Linked DNA regions of Homo sapiens: region 1 is linked to region 2. Evidence: fine-mapped expression QTL. A gene starts in region 2. The other region holds a variant in brackets. All regions are shown on one strand. Distances are between the middles of the regions.

Region 1 (5,000 bases), 45 kb after region 2:
TGGAGGAGTTAAGTTCATGGCTCAGCTTTTCGTTTCGTGCTAATTGTTTTTCCTTTCCCTCTGCCTCCTGACCCTGGTGACAGTGGACTCTGGCATGAGTTGAGCATTCCTAGGCCTGCTGGGGAAACCCTTTCTTTTTGGTTTTGGTGTTTTGTAAACACTGATTATGCCAAGTCTGGGGCCCTTGACCTGTTTCCAGAGAAAGAAACGCGATCTGTCCTGAGCTGGGGGACTTGGGGCTCTAAATCCAGGCAGAGAATTGTCCATGTTGCTGATCATAAAGATGACCTTGGAGGTTTTCTTGGCAGAGCCAGGGACAGACACCATGTGGATGAGTAATGCAGGGCATGTGGCCTTCTTTGCTCATGACCTAGGCATCTCCCTGTCGCTGGACCTCAGTCTTTTCATTTAAAAGTGGGGTGGAGTAGGAAGATAAAGTGGAGCCATAACTTCCCCTCGGAGCATCCTGAATTTACTCTCGGTCCTGCAGTTTCTTTGCGTGTCTAGGGGAGCTGAGGAGACCAGGTGGAAGCCCGAGTCCAAGTTGGGCCAGGTCTCTATCTCCCCTCGGTCCAGGGAGGCCCATGGGCGATGCTGTCCTGGGGCCAAAGTCCAGGGTGCCCAGTCTTGAGACATGTTCCAGAGTTCTGAGTAACATGTTAACAGAGTTAAAGGGGAAACACGGTTAACTGAAACCTTTAAGAAGATGTGGGCACACTGTTTATATAATCTATTGTGAACATGATAGATTAAGAGTATTTTTTTATTTTCAAAATGTTATTTGATGATATTTCAGCCCATTTTCAGTGTTAGAAAGGGAAAATATTAACTAAGCAGAAATTAAATCCAGTCTTCTCTATGTACATAAGTGTTGAGGATGGAAGGGGTGGTTTGGATGGGAATGGGTTGCTGAAAGTGAAGAATCTCAGGGCAGGGCAGTTGTTGGGGAGACTGAAGCTTCCCCCGGAGGACTTAATCTTCCTTCTAGGTCTGGGTGCTAAGAATTGAGCCACACATGTTCAGGGAAGGGGAGGTTTCCCCTTCTGCATGACAACCCCAGTTTAGCCTGCTGGGTAGGAGCATGTGCTGGGCTTGAATCTGTGCTCTGCCACTTACTAGCTGTGTGACCTTGACCTTGGACAAGCCCCTTCAGGTCTCTGAGCCTCAGTTTTCACATCTGTAAAATGAGGATGATGATCATAGTCTTTTCTTCATGGCACTGTGCAGAAGATCCAATGAAATGATATGTGTAGAATGCAAATAAATAGGGCAGCATTTATTAAATAGGACTGGTAGTGGTGGCTATTATTAGTATGATTATTATTAGGAAGGAGTTCCCTGAGGATGACCCCTCCAAAGGGCCCTGATTTCCAGGGGTTCCTGCTGATGGTCCCATCTTTTCCTGATTCCAGGCCCTGGAGGAAGCACTGAGCATCCAAACCCCGCCATCATCTCCACCAACAGCATTTGGGAGCCCAGAAGGAGCAGGGGCCCTCCTAAGGAAACAGGAGCTGGTCACGCAGAATGAGTTGCTGAAACAGCAGGTGAGGCTTCCGGGAGGAAATCAGGTGGGAGGTGCTCTGTGGGAGCTGGAGCTTTCCTGAGGGCCCAGACGGCTTGGAATCACATGGAACCTGTAATTAGTAATCCACTTTCTGGCCATTGGCCAGGGCCCCCCACTGGCTCTAGGTTTATCCTTTCCAGCACCATAACCCTAGCTTAAGTCGTTCCTCTACCACCTTTATGATTTAGCCATCTCTATGCCCCACACGTGCTATTATTTACCTAGTATTTAAAAAATAAATTCTAAATAAATGAATTTAAAAGGGAGCTTTATATCACTGCTGTAATTGGAAAAAACCATTTATTATTTGTCACAAGTAGAAAGTAACTGTACGCAATAAACAATAAAAACAGAACAATGTTATTAAACTCTAGCCGGATACTCTTGCCAAATGAAGACTCTGAACTGGAGTTCTTTTCTCCTTTATTTAAAGGAGATTGGCAGGTACTAAAATGGTATTAAAGACCTACTAGCCCTGAGGGACACAGAAGGATTGGGGTGAAAGAAAGCGAAAAGGTTGTGGCTCTCCCATTGTCTCTGTGCTATTTAATCCTCCTAAACTGCCTTGAACCTAGCCAGTGTCTCAGCTGATCTGCACTAAGGATGTGAAACTACAGGCTAAGAGACAGAGGCAGGCCCCACCCAACCCACCTCTGCCAGGGCACCCTGGAGCCCTAGCGGAGTTTGTAGGGTCTCTGCCCTCAGAACCAGCAGATCCAAACTCTGGTCTACACCACACTCTGGTTCTGTGATCACTGCCCCTGTGGGTCTCAGCGGAGTGAAAGGATTGCACTGGTTGATGGCTTTCAACGTTTTTTTAAAACCATATATCCTTTGTTCAAATAAAGTCCTAGCTTGAAGCCCAGAATGTAAGATAGAGGGACACAGAACTACTCTGTTTGAAGTTAAGGTGGAGGCTGGAGGTGTAGCTGTCCCACTCCCCATGGCGACCCCCAGCTCTGCCATCTGTGACCCCAGCAGGAGGCATGGGA[G/A]TCTGGGCCTGAGGAGAAATCCCCACTCAGGACCATCCCCCTCCCTCTCTTCACCCTCCCTCCACACCAGGTGAAGATCTTCGAGGAGGACTTCCAGAGGGAGCGCAGTGATCGTGAGCGCATGAATGAGGAGAAGGAAGAGCTGAAGAAGCAAGTGGAGAAGCTGCAGGCCCAGGTCACCCTGTCAAATGCCCAGGTAAGAGTGACTGGACCCAGGAAGGGCAACTGGCCTGTCCTCGTGGGGAGAGGGGGCATGGATTGGAGGGCCCTGGTGAGGCTGGATGTCAGGACCCTCACTGCTTCTCTCCAGCTCTGCAATCATATTTGAGCTCGGCAAGGCCCTTCCCCTCTCTGACTCTTTCTTTGTACAATTACGAGTTTTACTCTAAGATATCTCTACCTCTGACTTTCCACAGTCAGTTCTGGGCTTTACTCTCCCAGAGTGGAACTAAAAGATGTTAGCAGAGAAGCAGCGAGGTTCACGTGAACCCTCTTGACCTGTGCACAGACCACTGTGACAAGCAGGTGGCCTGCAGCAACAGCCTGGGCTGTGCTCCGCCCTCAGGGCCCTTTCCCGGGGCTGGCCCACGCATGGTGGCCCAGAGGGAAGCATCAGCCGGTCAGTCCTCGTGGCTGGTTAGGCCCTGGATCCAGGCCTGGCCAGAAACCACCTGTGCCGACAGTCTTTTCTCCCTCCCTTCTTCTCTCAGCTAAAAGCATTCAAAGATGAGGAGAAGGCAAGAGAAGCCCTCAGACAGCAGAAGAGGAAAGCAAAGGTGAGGAGGCTTGAGGGAGGTAGCAGCACTGACATCCTCTTACCTTCCTCATGGAGCTAGCCTGATGGATGCACAGTGTGTGCTCGGGCGTGGGGACATCCTCTGCTAACTAACTGATGAGTAATACAGGAAAAGCCTTAGAGCAGTATTGGTACAGAGGCAGTGCCCACAATGTATTAGCTGTCATCACTGTTGACATTCTGTGTCCAGGTAGCAACCTTCCGTGCCCATGTGACTAGCCTTCTTTGGCCGTGTATGAGCCTTCCGTGCCCATGTATCCAACTTTCTATGCCCATGTTCCAGCCCTCCGTGCCCATGTACCAGCCTTTTGTGCCCATGCCCAGCCTTTTGTGCCCATGCCCAGCCTTCCATGCCCATGTACCAGCCTTCCGTGTCCATGTACCAGCCTTCCATGCCCATGTGCTCAGCCTTCCGTTTCCATGTATCAGCCTTCCGTGCCCATGTGCCCAGCCTTCTGTGTCCATTTACCCAGCCTTCCGTGCCCATGTATGAGCCTTCTGTGCCCATGTGCCCAGCCTTCCATGCCCATGTGCCCAGCCTTCCGTGCCCATGTACCCAGCCTTCCGTGCCCATGTACCAGCCTTCTGTGCCCATGTTCTAGCCTTCCGTGCCCATGTACCAGCCTTCCGTGTCTATGTACCAGCCTTCACTGCCCATGTACCTAGCCTTCTGTGCCCATGTACCAGCCTTCACTGCCCATGTAGCAGCCTTCTGTGCCCATGTACTAGCTTTCCGTGCCCATGTACCAGCCTTCCGTGTCCATGTACCAGCCTTCCATGCCCATGTACCAGCTTTCCATGCCCATGTACTAGCCTTCTGTGCCCATGTACCAGCCTTCCGTGCCCATGTACCAGCCTTCCGTGCCCATGTACTAGCCTTCCATGCCCATGTACCAGCCTTCCGTGCCCATGTACCAGCCTTCTGTGCCCATGTCACAACCTTCCATGCATGTGTACCCAGCCTTCCATGCCCATGCAGCCTTCCATGCTCATATATCCAGCCTTCTATGCCCATGTATCCAGATTTCTGTACCCATGTAGCAGCCTTTCATGACCACATACCAGCCTTTGGTACCCAGCCTGCTAGCCTTCAGAGAGCTAACATTCTATTTAGAGGGTGATGAGATGGGTGTCCTTTGCAGCCTGTTGCAGGCCAAAGCCAGACGTCAGCCTTTCTTGCAGGCCTCAGGAGAGCGTTACCATGTGGAGCCCCACCCAGAACATCTCTGCGGGGCCTACCCCTACGCCTACCCGCCCATGCCAGCCATGGTGCCACACCATGGCTTCGAGGACTGGTCCCAGATCCGCTACCCCCCTCCCCCCATGGCCATGGAGCACCCGCCCCCACTCCCCAACTCGCGCCTCTTCCATCTGGTGAGTCTGTGTCCCTCCCTTGCTCCAGGGCACACACAGAGGCTGCCCCAGACACCTTCCAGAGAGGAAGGTTAAGTGAGGGGTTCAGAAACTGCATCCTTCTGAACTAAACAGCACCGTGGTGGCAGGTGGGTGTCCAGGGCCTGGCTCTGGGCTGCTACCCAGGGGCAGGGATCTGGCCACAGTCCCGCAGGGCTGCCCCACAGCTGTTCAGGGTCACTGGTCTAGGACGGAGAAGGCTGAGTAAGAGTGCAGGGTGGGAAGGAGGACTCCC
Region 2 (5,515 bases):
AGATGGATTTTTCATATGTTTTTTATTACCTTCAAATGTGTATTTGGGTCTGACTCTGTAGCTACCTCAGTAGGGGTGGTGGAGGAGGGAGTAGCAGAAAGGAGATCGAGAAGTTGCGTGCTTTAAAACAAAACCAAATAAAACAAAACAAAACAAAGGCAGTTTGATTCTCCTTCTGGGTGTGGCTTTGTGCGAGTGCTTGTCATTACTCTGGAAGAACAAGAGGTTGCACCTGCCTGAGTCACTCAGCTCCCAGCGTCAGGCCCAGCTTCTTGACTTGGAAATCCCCTTCCAGACCACAGGGTAGCAGGCAGTGCCAGGCTAGGGGGCCTGTCTCCCATTCCTGCCATGCTCCTAGAGGCTAGGGTCTCACAGAGGATGTGTATGGTGGGATGGCGCCTGGTGAGGTTGCATTGCTGAGTTTAAGAGCCAAGTTCTACCCAATGCATGCAGCCCACATCTAGACACCACTATCATTTCTTGAATGCCTACTGTGTGCTGAGCCTTGGGCTTTATTTGCATTGTCCAATTTATCCTCATGATTCACATGAGGAATAGGTATATTATCCCCCATTTTCCAGACAGAAGCCTGAGGCTTAGAGGGGCCACCCAGGTAGTAAGTGGCTGAGCAGGGATTGGAATCCCATTAGCTCAATTCATAGCCTGTGTTTATGACAGTGGTGTTTTCTGCAAGGCAGTGAGAAAAATCATGTCATTGTAAAGACAACTTGGTACAGTGGACCAAGCACACAGGACTGGGAGCCAAGGCCCTGGATTCCAAGGCCCTGGTTGTGTCACTCAATGTGTGTGGCCTAGAGTAAGTCCTTTTCTAGACAGAGGACTCAGTTTACCTATCTGTCAAATAGGGGTTTGTTATCTATGGGCTCCATGGTCTCTAACAGGGTGGAATGTCCTGAAGACAAACCAAGACTTCAAAGAATGGAAGAGGTGGGGGCAGTCACGACTTTATAAATAAATGAGTTTTCTCACAAATTGGAACTGTTAAGAAAAAGGATCCAGAACTAGGAAATCAGACAAAAAGATGACTGAGTGCCATTTTTTTATGTCAAGCTTGAGAATTCCCAGCGGACACTTTGAGAAATGAAACTGTCTGCCCGGCTAAGGCCAGACATGCTATAAAAACAGCTGAAATAGTGTGGAAACAAAATGCAAGTAATTAGAGACCAGCCATTTTTAGGTAGATTTTAGTTTTCAGTGGGTAGAGGGTGGGGGTGGAGAAGATGTGGGTTGGGAATAGGAAGAGAGCCCTGCAGGAAGAGAATTGGGAAGTACAGGCACAAAGAGCAGGAAGAAAACTGGCAGGTGCGGACCTGATGGGTGGAGACGATGCCTGGGAGCTGCTATGTAAACCAGGGCCAGGATTCCCAGTTTCTCTGTAGGATCCCCCAGTGGTGAGACTCAGTGGTGCTTTGGAGTTTGCATCGCTTCCTCCCTCCCTCCCTTCTGAATCAAGGCATAAGTGTAATTCTTTTCATAATTAAACTAGAATGAATATCGTTTTGAAGATCTGATAACACCGTTGAATTAACTGAAGGAACCCTAGGAGGTTACAAAGCCTTATAGGAGAATCCCCAGATTAGGTATATAATTTGGGCAAGTATCTGTGTGTGTATTATTGCGAAGTCACAGTTGATTGATGGGTCTCTCTTCTGTAAAATGAGGGTGTGTATTAAACAGTTCCCCAAATCCTTTCCCCTAATTCTTTTTGAGGATGAGGGCCTGTCAATGACTAAGTTTTCAACAGTACCAGTGAAATGGGTCTTTTGCAATAGGTTTTTCATAAAGCTATATTTAGTTTAAAGAGCTGTTCTTTATTCCAAGGTTAGACCTTCCACTTTTTGGAATTAAAATTTAGCTTTCTTTCTTTTTAAAAATAAAAGGATAAGCTTTTAAAAAGCTTTCCTACCCTTAAAGCAAGTTTATGTTCCTTACCGGTCTAGGAAATCCCAGTCTGTTGGGATTATCTAGCCCACATATAAGTAGGTAGGGTGGAAGGCGGCCTCTGGATTTGCCCACCCGGGTTTGAATCTTGATTCAGCCCCTTACTGAGGTCATCTAACCTTTTTGTGACTCAAATATTATTTAAGAAAAGGTAGTAAAACCCACCTCCCTAGCGTGATTGTGCGAAGAAAATAATGCACGCAAAGCATCTACAATGTCTGGAGCAAAGCGTTTACGATGTCTGGGAATCCTTTACAATGTCTGGAGCAAAAAATGTTCGCGGTAGAGTCTTTATGGGTCTTTTCAGCTCGGAATTTCTATAGCTTTGTTAAGAAGAGTCCTGGAGTGCCCTGGACGGAACTCTGGGGGCCTGAGCTCCAGCTCTGGCTTAGGGCCAAATGCTTACGTGCCTTTTGGCAGGTCCCCTCCCTGTTCTGGCCTGTGTTCCCCTCGGCACAAGGAAGGGGCTGGGTGGTCTCTGTGGCTCGCCTCCGCTCTGAAATTCCGGCTTTCAAGGTGGCCCCAGGCCTTCGACAGGGGCTTCCGGCGCTGGGAGTGCGGCAAGGCGCCGCGCAGGCCCGGGACGGTGGCCCCAGGGAAGTCGCTCCTAGAGGGGAAGGCCGCCGAAGGGACGAGAGACACCGCGGGCCCCCGGAACCGCAGGCAGCCGGTGTTTACCTCGCTCGGTCCCACCCCAGGCGGCCGCGGGCCCGCCCGGAGCGCGCGGCGCGATTGGGCGAGTGGCCTGCCAGTCTCCGGGGACTTTCCCAGGGGTGGGGCGGCCCGGCCAGGCCCCCGGCACTTCCTCGTCCTCGGCCCGGGTGCCCTGCCCCCGTCCAGGAGCCCTAGGAGTGCTACGGGGGGCCGGAGCCTTGCCCGGGCCGCTGCCCCGTCCCTGGATTCGGGGCTGGACGCAGCAAGCGGGGCGCTGTGTCCCCAAGCTCCCCGTCCTCGGGTAAGCCGGCCGGCCCGGAGCGGGGATGGAGGGGAGGAAGGGAGGCCAGGCCCAGATCGTCCAGAGCCTCGGTGGCGGCGGGGAGCGAGCTGGGGAAGGTGGCTTGTGCACCCAGGCCCGGCGCGCGGGGTCCCGGGGCGTCTCCGCCAGCGGCCAAGCCGGGCTGAGCCGCTACTCCCTGCTTGGCGCTGGGCCTGGTGGGGGGCGCGCGTGCGCACTGCGCGGGGTAGCACGCCTGGGAACGGCGTGGGGCGGTTGTAGAGAGCGCAGACCCTCCGGGTGCGGGCGGCGCTGCGGCCCTTTGGGTGTCTATCCTGTGGAGACGAGTTGCCTACGCGGCGTCAGGAGTTTTCGTATCAAGTTGTGGAAGCAGTGTACATATGTCACGAGGAGGAAAATAATAATTTTTATTGGGCGCTTTCCAAGTGCTGATCTTAACGCTGTACGTGTATTAGACTCATTTAATTGTCACTTCCATCCTAAACATTAATATTGTTATTATCTCCATTTTATACTTTAGGAAACCGAGGTACTTGGAGCTTGAGGTCACACAGCTGTGAGTTGCAAAGTCAGATATGAACTCAGGCATTTGGCTCCAGAGTTCCTACTATACTATTTCTGTTGAACATATTTTGTATGCACATTGTTGGAGGCATTTGTGTGCATGTGCAGGATGGATGAGTTTCCAGGAGTGCTTCTGGGGATGGAGTATGAAGGCTGAGCTTTCCACTGTAGGACATTTGTGTGCACGTGTGCATTGTACATTCATTGTGCGTACAGGAGCAGATGGGAATTTTGTGCGACTGGGTGAGAGATTGTGTTTTGGTAGGGGGAGGGAGGGACTTTTGTGGATGATGCAGAAGAATCAGCAACGTCCTTCCCCACCCCCTTGCAGAATGACAGTGCAGGGAAATGTGTAGATTCCTAATGCATCATTTTTTTCTCACAGTACGGTCAAAATGGGATTTAATCAGCACTTACTCATTTTCCAAACAATGGGGTGTGATAGAGGGGAATTCGGCATCTGATGAGAGGTCAGAAAAGGGGACTCAGAATGTTTTAAAAAAATCCTTGACAAAGGAGGGTAGAATTGTATTAGGAGGGTAGAATATTAGTACAAACTCAGCATCCCCGTGGTGGTCTCTGTTTTGCAACAGAAGAAACTGAGGCAGTGAAAAAACTGATAATGCTAATAGCTTACTATGTGCCAGGCACAGTGCTTACATTCCGTATCTCATTTAATCTTTTTTTTTTTTTTGAGACAGAGTCTCACTCTGTTACCCAGGCTGGAGTGCAGTGGCACGATCTCGGCTCACGGCAACTTGCCTCCCAGGTTCAAGCGATTCTCCTACCTCAGCCTCCCGAGTAGCTGGGATTACAGGCACTCGCCACCATCCCCGGCTAATTTTTTTGTATTTTGAGTAGAGACAGTTTCACCATGTTGGCCAGGCTGGTCTCAAACTCCTGACCTCAAGTGATCCGCCCGTCTCAGCCTCCTAAAGTGCTGGGATCACAGGTGTGAGCCGCCCCGCCCGGCCTCACTTAATCTTTCTAACAACTCTTAATTTTCAGATGAGGAAACTGAGGCCCAGAGAAGGTTAAGGCTTTCCCAAGACTAGCAACGCTTGAATCCTGGACCCTGTTCCCTTTCCCCTGACCAAGGCTGCTGTCCTGGCTGTGTCCCGGGAAAATAATGTGATCAGGGACTGGCACTTCATGGAAGCACGTGATCATGCCCCTCTGGAAGCTGCCGCTGGGAGTGTGCAGTGTTCTACACGCTTATGTAACCACGTTTGTCTCCCAGCCTTGGGTGTTCCATGGGTATGGCATGGCACTCATGCTGAAGGTTGATGCCTGCCCCTGGATACCCCCACCAGTTTTTTCGGGGCCCCAGGAAGCTGTGGGGTCTGAGTCATACCCTTACCCCCAGTGCTGCCTGTGACTTGGGGCCCGGATGTCCTGGTTGGGTCAGGCCGACCTGATTTGAGAGAGGCAGCGTTGTAGGAGGTTGTTTGTCTGCCTCTCTCTCCAACCCACTGGTTACTGTTTTACTCCTGTACCCGCTGTGATTTGGTCACACCATGCTGGCCTGCTTTTCCCCCTCCAGCAAGCCAAGCTTGTTCTCATCCTTAGGCTTTCATACATGCTGTTCCCTCTGCCCAGGACATCTTTCCCCGTTTTTCCCATGGCTGGTTTTTCCTTATCGATCAAGTCTCAGCTCAAATGTCAGCTCCTCAGAGGGGCCTTCCCTGATCTTTTTATGCAAAGCAGCCCCTTTTTTCACTTTCTGTCACGTTACTATTTTATTTTTCTCATACGTGTATCATGCTATGAAAGAATCTTATTTGCGAATGAGAAAGCATATGTATAGAACTTAGTGTCTGGCAAATTGTTATTTTTAGTGTTTATTTGTTTACTGTCTTTCTCTTTTCCTAGAATAGAAGGGGGTGAGCAGGGACCTCCTTAGTCCTCTCGAGTGTATTTCTGTAGCGGGAGAAGAGTGCCTGGTGGATGGCTCTTCTGAGTTTGTTCAGTGAATGAGTAGAATAATGGCACATTTCACAAATGAGGAAATTAAGGCCTAGAGATGAGAAGGCA

Which allele goes with the higher level. Alleles are on the strand shown, and positions count from the first base shown. SD is a standard deviation of normalised expression in the study named.
With allele G in place of A in region 1, the expression in monocytes after LPS of the gene that starts at base 2,763 in region 2 is lower (moderate effect, 0.45 SD a copy in Quach 2016).

The links. PIP is the estimated chance that this variant, and not a neighbour inherited with it, causes the effect. A credible set is the group of variants that fine-mapping cannot tell apart.
Region 1: its variant is the best candidate, but not a certain one, in a credible set for the expression of TNIP1 in monocytes after LPS (Quach 2016, PIP 0.66).

Annotation. Positions count from the first base shown.
Region 1 is chr5:151,033,334-151,038,333 of GRCh38, reverse strand. TNIP1 (TNFAIP3 interacting protein 1) reads left to right here. Exons shown (of 18, transcript NM_006058.5): 13 at 1,413-1,544; 14 at 2,627-2,752; 15 at 3,267-3,332; 16 at 4,535-4,726. Among named protein-coding and RNA genes, the nearest start is that of GPX3, 15 kb to the right of the region's middle. The variant G/A (reference allele first, on the strand shown) is at 2,557.
Region 2 is chr5:151,078,282-151,083,796 of GRCh38, reverse strand. TNIP1 (TNFAIP3 interacting protein 1) reads left to right here and starts at 2,763. Exons shown (of 18, transcript NM_006058.5): 1 at 2,763-2,917. RefSeq lists enhancers at 17-126, 247-356, 2,169-2,228, 1,943-2,653, cis regulatory regions at 2,194-2,963, 2,463-3,251 and silencers at 2,529-3,198, 4,884-4,933.